Homo sapiens: one gene and its partner. Changing the gene in region 1 together with any one later gene gives a genetic interaction. Each region holds a gene or a part of one and is shown in the gene's direction. Other genes may lie near its edges.

Region 1 (4,177 bases):
CAGCTAAGGTCCTTACTGCCAGTCTCTAAGCCCTCACTAGGGGCTTTGAAGTTTTGTAGATTCTCAGCAGAATACCTCAGCACCTAGAGAAAGTTCGGTTTTTTTGCCCTTTTTTTTTGGTAGAGACAGGGTCTCGCCATGTAGCCCAGACTGGTCTTGAACTCCTGGCCTCACGTGATCTGCCTGCTCGGCCTTCCAAAGTGCTGGGATTATGGTCATGAGCCACCTGTCTAGCCAGTTTTTTTGCCTTTTTAATTCTTAAGGTTGCTCAACAAATTATTTGCTGAGACAAGAATAGGGTTGGAGTGTTCATTTATTTGTGGCAATTTTATTGGGACATAGAAAGGAAAAGTGTTAGAATTGAGGGATCAGATCTGGTAAGTGGTAAATTGTATGTGTTTAAGGTGTCTTATACTCAGTCTACAGTTAGCATCGCTCCTTCCTCTGCCTGGCCCCCCTCCTCTAACTTCTAGACTCTAGTTTAAAATGAAGCTATTCGGCTCTGCTCAGACCGGTATGTGGAAGGGAGAAAGGTAAGATTCTTCAGTCCTGTGAAATCACATCATTCAGGGAGGTTTGGGCATTGCCTTTTGGAACTGACAGGGTCCAGGAGTGTCTGAGGCTCTACTCTGTTTCGTTAGGACCCCTAAAGGGGAGAAAGGTATACTTGGGGCACTTAAACTAGGAAAGGAGTTTTGTGAAATCATATCAGGTATCTTTGACCTTTATTGAAAGAGTCAGGCCGGGCGTGGTGGCTCCTGCCTGTACTCAGTACTTTGGGAGGCCAAGGCAGGTGGATCACTTGAGGCCAGGAGTTTGAGACCAGCCTGACCAACATGGCAAAACCCCGTCTCTACCAAAAAATACAAAAAAATTAGGTGGGCATGTTGGCGTGAGCCTTTAGTCTCAGCTACTTGGGAGGCTGAGGCAGGAGAATTACTTAAACCCGGGATGCAGAGGTTGCAGTGAGCTGAGATCACGCCACTGCACTCCAGCCTGGGCAACAGAGCAAGACTCTGTCTCAAAAAAAAAAAAAAAAAAAAGAGTCAGAAGTTAATTGACTGAGCATCTCATAGTGTTCTCTTTCCAGCTTTCCTATGGATTTTCTGAGAGTCTTTGAGTAAGGAGGAACTAACCTTCTCAGGTATGTTTTCGCTATCTGGTCATCCTGACTGCTGCTTCTTTGCAGTGTCTTTTCTCCCTACTGTTCTTCTCTGCTGCTTCTGTATCTTCCTTGTTTTTCTTTCCTTCTCCACAGTACTCAAGACCAACTTCTGAAGTCCTCTGTTTCAGACCTGTGTATGTAGATACAGTTTCTATAGAGTTACTGTAAATGTTGCATAGTGAAAAGAGTAAGTAGCCACTGTTTACCATTTGTAGGTTGGCTCTTCATGCCTCTAAGATTCCTTATTTTGTTATCATTTCTGTTATTGAACATCTTTAAAGAAGTTCTTAGGTAGTAGAAAGTGCTTGCACTAAAAATAACTTTTCAACATTTTCCTTATCTATTAAGCTACTTTCTCCATTCATTATCTTGAACAATACCATAATATCTTCATAATACATGGATTTTTTAATTTAATTTTTGTCAAAATTGTACATGTACATGGTTTAAACAGTCAAATAGTTCAGTAGAGCTTGTAACACTAAATAATAGTTTCCTCTCCCGACCCACTTTTTTTTTTTGAGATGGAGTTTCGCTCTGTTGCCCAGACTGGAGTGCAGTGGTGCGACCTCGCCTCACCACAACCTCTGCCTCGCGGGTTCAAGTGATTCTCCTGCCTCGGCCTTCTGAGTAGCTGAGATTACAGGTGCCTGCCACCATGCCTGGCTAATTTTTTGTATTTTTAGGAGAGACGTGGTTTCGCCACGTTGGCCAGGCTGGTCTCAAACTCCTGACCTCAGGTGATCCTCCTGCCTCAGCCTTCCAAAGTGCTGGGATTACAGACTTGAGCCGCTGTGCCCAGCCTACTTTTTGTATTTTTAGTAGAGACAGGGTTTCACCATGTTACCCAGGCTGGTCTAGAACTCCTGGCCTAAAGCAATCCGCCCACCTCAGCTTCCCAAAGTGCTGGGATTACAGGTGTGAGCCACTCACTGATCCTGGCCATCACTATATTTATTTTTTCTTTTCTTTTCTTTTCTTTTTTTTTTTTTTTTTTTTGAGACTGTGTCTTGCTCTGTCGCCCAGGCTGGAGTGCAGTGGCACGATCTTGGTTCACTGCAACCTCTGCCTCCTGGGTTCAAGTGATCCTCCTGCCTCAGCCTCCCAAAATATTGGGATTACAGTTGTGAGCCACCACACCTGTCCAATTGTACTTCTTTATTATGGACTTTGAGGCTCTAGGTCTCTTGTATCATCAACCTCCCCCTACTCCTCCTCTTACTCACTTTATCCTCCCAATATAGTTTGCTCATAATTTTTGGTTAGGCTAATATCAAGATTTATATTAATAAAATTATGTTAGTATTATTCTCAACTGAATAGGGAGTATGATATACTAATATTTTCTTTACTCTTTTTATTTATTTATTTATTTTTTGAGATAGGGTCTCTCTCTGTCACCCTGCCATAGCAGGATCACAGCTCACTGCAGCCTTAACTTTTTGGGCTCAAGCAACCTTCCCACTTCTACCTCCTGAGTAGCTAGGACCACAGGTGTGTGCCACCAGGCTTGGCTAATTTCTAAATATTTTGTAGAGGTGGGGGTCTCACTACATTGCCCAGGCTGGTCTCAAACTCCCGGCCTCAAGTGATCTTCTCACTTTGGCCTCCCAGAGTACTATGATTACAGGAATGGGCCATTGCATCCTGCCTGTGGTAACATATTCTATCTTGTATAACTTTTTTGTCTTCCCTGGCATTAATAATTTTTGTTACTGTTTTTATTAGCATGGCTTTTTGTATCCTTATCTCTTGTTCATGCCCGGATTATCCGGTAGAAGTATGATTCTCCTCTCCTGGGTACTGTCTATGTCGTCCAGCATGAGCTGGTTGCTCTTTATGTCTGTTCACAGCTCTTGTCCTGGGATCTTCCTTCACCTTTTTCCTGGGATTTCCCTTTGCTTCTCTGTATTGAACCCTAGTTTCTGGATCCCATATCTCTACTGCCAACTTTCAGGTCTTCAATTGTGGTAGCTCTCCTTACTTTGATCCTGGAGCATCCTGCGAACTCTTTGCCTCATGTAGATTTCAGCCTTTGAGGTCTTCTCTTTGTTCTTTTTTAAAGTACAGGTTGAGCATTCCAAACCTGAAACTCCAAAATGCAAAATGCTCCAAAATCTGAAACTTTTTGAGCACCAACATGATACTCAAAGGAAAAAAAAATGATTGGAGTATTTCAGATTTTGGATTTTTGAATTTGGAATGCTCACTGGTCAGTATAAAGCACATAGTCCAAAAACTGAAAAAGTTTAAAATCTGAAACACTTCTGGTCTCAAGCATTTTGGACAAGGGATACTCAACTTGCAGTATAAACCGTAGTGATAGAATCGTAGACTGTTAGAGGTGGAAGGGACTTTCAAGCTTACCTAGTTCTAACCCTCCAGCTCCCTGGCACCTGGAAATCCTAGAAGACCATAGATTGTTCAGCCATCCCACCCCGTACTGCCCCCCGAACCTGTTTTCTGACATCCATTCTTGTCTCTCTAGTACACCAATAATGTGGGCTGAAGAGTCAGACAGTCTTTAATATTAGGCTCCACTCAATCCCTTGGCTGTGTAACTTTTGGCAGGTTTCTTAATCTTGTGGTCTCTTTCTCATCAGTAATATGGGGATTATAAACTTACATTACAGAGATGTTATAAGGATGGGAACTAATGCAGATAAAGCAGCTTTACAAGGCTCTAAGCCTTGGCACAGAGGAGGCCCTAAGGCATAGCTCTGGTTATTTCCATCTTGGATCTTAGCCTGTGTTTTTACAAATCAAAAAGTGTCACATGAATTCAAAACACTGGAGCTGCACCAAACATTGATGTTCTAGGAGATGGTTCTTTTATTTCCAGACCACGTATAGTAATTTCATTAAGTACTCTTAGGTAGAATTAATTGAAGTAATTTTAATTATTTAATGTTTTAAAATTAATATCATTTATAGAGATATTTGTTAATTCTTGTTTATGTGCTATTTGTTCCACTCAATATTAGTGTGTACTTTTTCATGTGTTGATGCCTG
Region 2 (4,659 bases), on another chromosome or scaffold:
TGAGCCACCAAGCCCGGCCGCTGCCGCTCACTTTCTGTGGAAGCCCTCAGGGTGCTGGACGAGTCTCCAACCTCCTTGGGAGCCAGCCAGGGCTCCCCTGTAGCTGGCCCAGCCCTCGACAGGCTGCAGAGAGCAGGGCCCCGCTGGCCGCTGATCACCAGCACTGGCAGCCAGGGCCACCTGGGAGGTTTGGAGCATGGAGAGCCGGAGCTGCGTGCCCGCACGCCTGAGGCTGACACAGGGCCTCACCCTGAATCAGAAGAACCCCCGCAGTGGGGACAGCAGTGCGGGGCCAGCCCCGGCCCTGTCTTCCCTTGTCCTTCCTTGACCCTCGGTCCCACCGTGCGTCAACCACAGCCCCAGAAGGGAAAAGACGCGGAGTGGCCGCCTGACCCTCAGGCCTGCTCTCAGGAGAGGAAGGAAGCGGGACACCTGCAGAGGGGCCGGGGGCCCCAGTCTCCGGTTCCCCTTCAGCGGCCCGGGCTTGCTGAGCCCTCAAAGTAGGACACGCAGCCAGAGACACCTGTGGCCTCACAAGGCCCGCTTGCCCCCCATGGGGTGCCTGGCCCCGCAAGCGCGAAGCGGTCAGAAAAGGGAGGCCGCGCTTCAGGGCTCAGGCCGCCCAAGGGGCCACGATTCGAGGAATCACTCGGGAGGGAGGGAGCGCGCGAGGGCCGGGCTGAGCCCCCGCCCGTGGGTGCGCGCCTGGAAAACTCGCAGCCTCCGCCCTGGGAAGTGGGGCAGCGGCTCCCTTTGTCCGCACCACACCAGGTGGGTGTCCCGGCCGACTCCGCTCGCCACGTGGCCGCGCCCCTCCCCTCCGCCGAGCTCCAGCGGCCTGGAGTGCGCTCGCCCGTTCGGCCCTGCGCCTCGTCCGGGTCCCCGGGAAGCTGCTAAGGAGGGGCCGTCGGGTGGGTGGACGTCCGTCTCGGGTCTGGGTTCCCCGCCGCACCCGCGAGGAAAACCGGGGATGCGCTGCGATGACCGGCAGTAACCCCGGCCGGGGCGCCCGCGGCCGGGGTCAACGCCCGCACTTGCGCCGCGGCCCGCGAGGCATCCGGGACCGCCCCGCCGCCCGCCCATCACCCTATCGCCTAGCAACGCCCACCCGCGCGCCGCCATTGGGCCGGTGCGAACACCCCTGGCGCCCGATTGGTTGCTGCTGCCGCCGCGCCGCGCAACGCCGCGCCCTCAGCCAGCTCCGCGCGGGCAGCGACGGCGGCGTGGAGTCGGCGGCCGAAGTGCGGGCACGCGGGTCCGTCCGTCCTTCCGCGCGCCTGTGGGTCCGAGCGCCCCGCCGCAGCCGGCTGGACCCCCGGTGTGGCCACGGGGTAGTCCCCAGTGTGGCCCAAGCATTCCCATCCCGCACACGTGGCCCCGGCGGACACGGGGGTCGGGGATGGCTCGGGAGGCGCGCCGCGGGCTCGGTCGCAGCCGCGTGCGCGTCGGGGCCCGCGGGGCGGGAGGCGGAAGTCGGGGGGCGGTGGTTTCCCGCCCGCCCCGCCCCCGGCGCTCCTCAGTCCCAGCCCCACCCCCCCAGGCGCGTTCCCGCGCAGGGTCCCGGCTCGGGCGGCGGCGCGCACGAGCATCACCCCACCGGCGGCGGCGCGCCGGGTCCCGGGGCGCAGCCCCGACGCTCATTGGCCTGGGCGGCGCAGCCAAGCTGTCAGCCCATGTGGCGTGGCCGCCCGGGGATGGCCGCGGTTTAAATAGCGTCGGCGCCGGCCTAGAGGGAGCCAGAGAGACGGCAGCGGCCCCGGCCTCCCTCTCCGCCGCGCTTCAGCCTCCCGCTCCGCCGCGCTCCAGCCTCGCTCTCCGCCGCCCGCACCGCCGCCCGCGCCCTCACCAGGTACGAGCAGCCGGCGCTGGGGCCGGGGCGCGGGTCGTGGTCGGGGCTGGGCCCGGGGTTCCCGGGGTGGCCCGGCTCCTCATCCTCCGCTCTCGGGGCGCGCGTGGCCCGGCCCCGTATCCAGGGGTCGCCTGGGCGGCCTGTCCGGGTCTCGGTGTTCGTGCCCCTTCGGAGGCGCCCGGGGCCCCGCGGAGTAGGTGGGCGGATGGCGGGGGAAGGACGCCGGGGAAAGCCACCAACAGCCGCCTTCGCTTCCCGTGGGGGAGGCCGCGGACCCTGAAGGGCCTGGAGGAGCCCCCGGCTCGGCCTCCCCGCGCCCACAAAGGCGCCGCCGCATCCTCCTCCCGGAGCCGCCCCGGAGCCGAGGCCCAGCCCGAAGGGGACGCCGCGAGGGAGGAACGGGGGGGCGCAGGGGCCGCGCCGGGACCGGCCTCCCCATCACGTGGCGCAGCCCGGCCGAAGCGCAGGGGTCCCGAGCAGCCCCCGCCCGGGGCGAAGGGAGGCCGGGCGCGCCGCGGTGTTCCCACCCCCTGCCTGGCCGTCGACCCCGCGTGAATAGCAAGCGGCGAGGACCCAGCGTGCGGGCCTGGAGCTGGCCCGGGGCAGCCAAGCCTCTGTGAATCGCAGCGGGTGGGAAGGCGGCCGCCTCCCTGCCGGGACGGCCCAAGGGAGGCCGCACTGCCGAGGGGCGGCGCGCGTATCAGGCCCTGGGGCCTCGTGCAAGTGGCCAGACCAGCGCTGGCCTCCGCCCCCTCCCCCCAGGGCCGCACCAGCCCTCATGCTGGAGGAGGAGCCGGCGGCCTGGGCACCCGTTCCGGGTCTTAGGGACCTGGGCTCCAGGGAGGGCCTCCTGTGGTGTGTGGGTTGGTATGGGGAGGCAAGCGTCTGTGGGTTCACCCGCGCAGGTGAAGGGTGCCAGGCAACACCTGCGTGTCCTGGCCAGGAGTGGTTCTCCAGGTTGGACCCTGCTGGAGGGGTTGGACTGGCTGGGTCGGTCCACAGTGGGGCAGGGGCCACCTTTCCCCCAGAGCATAGGCTATCCCCATTTCGTCCCTCCCCAGCCCTGGTGGCTCTTGGGCTGGCCTGGACAGCGGGCCCCCACCCCAACACGGGTGAGCATGGGTGCTGAGTACCCCCCTCTAGGGCTCCCAGCCACCTCCATGCCCCGGCTTTGGGACCCTGCCTCTCCATTTCTTTGATGGCCCTTAGCAGGCTGGCCACCTGAGGCCTTGTCCCCATCTCAGGTGACCCTGCCTGCTCCTCACTGTGAGCCCCCTGGTGCCCTAGGGATGGCCTGGGACAAGCTCCAGGAGCCTTGGAAGGCTGAGACTCAGGCGAGTGGAAGCCGACACAGGCGCAGAAACCAGTAACTGCTGGGGAGGCCAGGGCTGCAGGGCTCCAGTGGGGTACCCCAGCCAATACCCTGAACTGAATGGGTCAGGGCCCAGAGGCGGGCCTGTTCCCAGAGCACGCAGCCCCTCCCAGCGAGAGCGGGGTCAGGGCCCAGGAACTGGCCACATGAGGAAGGGAGCCGCAGGAGCCAGGGCCCGCACGGACCCTCAGGGTGGTGCTTGGCCCCATGGGTGTCCACCTGTTCTGGGTGCCGAGGCTGTTGACGGGGGTGTCGTGGCCGGGATGTGTGGGGCACTCACACCGCCCGCCCTGCAGAGCAGCCATGGAGGAGGTGGTGATTGCCGGCATGTCCGGGAAGCTGCCAGAGTCGGAGAACTTGCAGGAGTTCTGGGACAACCTCATCGGCGGTGTGGACATGGTCACGGACGATGACCGTCGCTGGAAGGCGGGTATGTGGCTGCGGGGCTCCCCGTGCCTGGGGTGTGAAGCTCCATCTCCACCTTTGTCCTCACAGCAGCCTCCCTGCTGTGCTGTGTCCTCACCACCCAGGCACTGGCCTGAGGCCGGTCCCAGCTGCAGAGCCACTGGTCACCCATGGGCGAGGCCTAGCTGCAGCCTCCTTCCTGGACATTGCACCAGAGTGGCCTAGAAAATGCGCCCAGCCTGCCAGGAGGTTCCCTCAACGGCTGCAAGGCCAACAGGAGGCTCCCCCAATGGCTGCAAGGCCGAGGGCTGGCCCAGGCAGGGCCCATCTGCTTGTTACGGAGGAGCCAAGCTCAGAGGATGGGTGACGGGCTGGGGTCTCTCACCCATGCAGGGGGTGCGGGGGGCCAGAGCCCTTCCGGCCAGGCTGCCCCTGCCTGTGTCTGTCCTGAGCTGGGAGGTTGCATACCAGATGTGCTCCGGGAGGCTGGAGCAACTGCCCCACACCCAGTAGGCTCTTCCACAGAGCAGCTCTACCTGACAGGCAAGCTGTGAGTCAGCATGGTAGAGCCGAGGCACCAGCCCGGCAGATGGTCCCCCAGCCTCACTCCCGCCGAGCTCTCTGCTCTGCGGCCCATCTCAGGATTGGGGCTTGGGGCTTGGGGCTTGTGCAGCAGATCTGGTCGTACCAGTCCCCGCTTTGGGGCCATGGTCTTCCCCTCCTGGGGAGCCTGCTCCATTGTTTGGGCCTCCCAGGCATAGCAGAGAGTCCTCAGTTCCACCATGGCCCCTCCAGGGGCCTGCAGCACCCCACAGGGCCCCCACCTCTGGGCAGCTTCCGTCAGAGATTTAAACACCCGCCTGTCCCACAGGGCTCTACGGCCTGCCCCGGCGGTCCGGCAAGCTGAAGGACCTGTCTAGGTTTGATGCCTCCTTCTTCGGAGTCCACCCCAAGCAGGCACACACGATGGACCCTCAGCTGCGGCTGCTGCTGGAAGTCACCTATGAAGCCATCGTGGACGGAGGTGGGTCGG

The links.
Region 2: changes in FASTKD5 (region 1) and FASN together harm fitness more than expected from each alone (negative genetic interaction), as found in Homo sapiens cells (one large-scale study listed by BioGRID).

Annotation. Positions count from the first base shown.
Region 1 is NC_000020.11:3,153,040-3,157,216, reverse strand, and holds part of FASTKD5 (FAST kinase domain-containing protein 5, mitochondrial), read left to right. Parts: intron 1-4,177. UniProt on the Homo sapiens protein: Plays an important role in the processing of non-canonical mitochondrial mRNA precursors.
Region 2 is NC_000017.11:82,095,311-82,099,969, reverse strand, and holds the start of FASN (fatty acid synthase), read left to right. Parts: upstream 1-1,733; 5' UTR 1,734-1,849; intron 1,850-3,517; 5' UTR 3,518-3,524; coding exon 3,525-3,651; intron 3,652-4,497; coding exon 4,498-4,650; intron 4,651-4,659. UniProt on the Homo sapiens protein: Fatty acid synthetase is a multifunctional enzyme that catalyzes the de novo biosynthesis of long-chain saturated fatty acids starting from acetyl-CoA and malonyl-CoA in the presence of NADPH.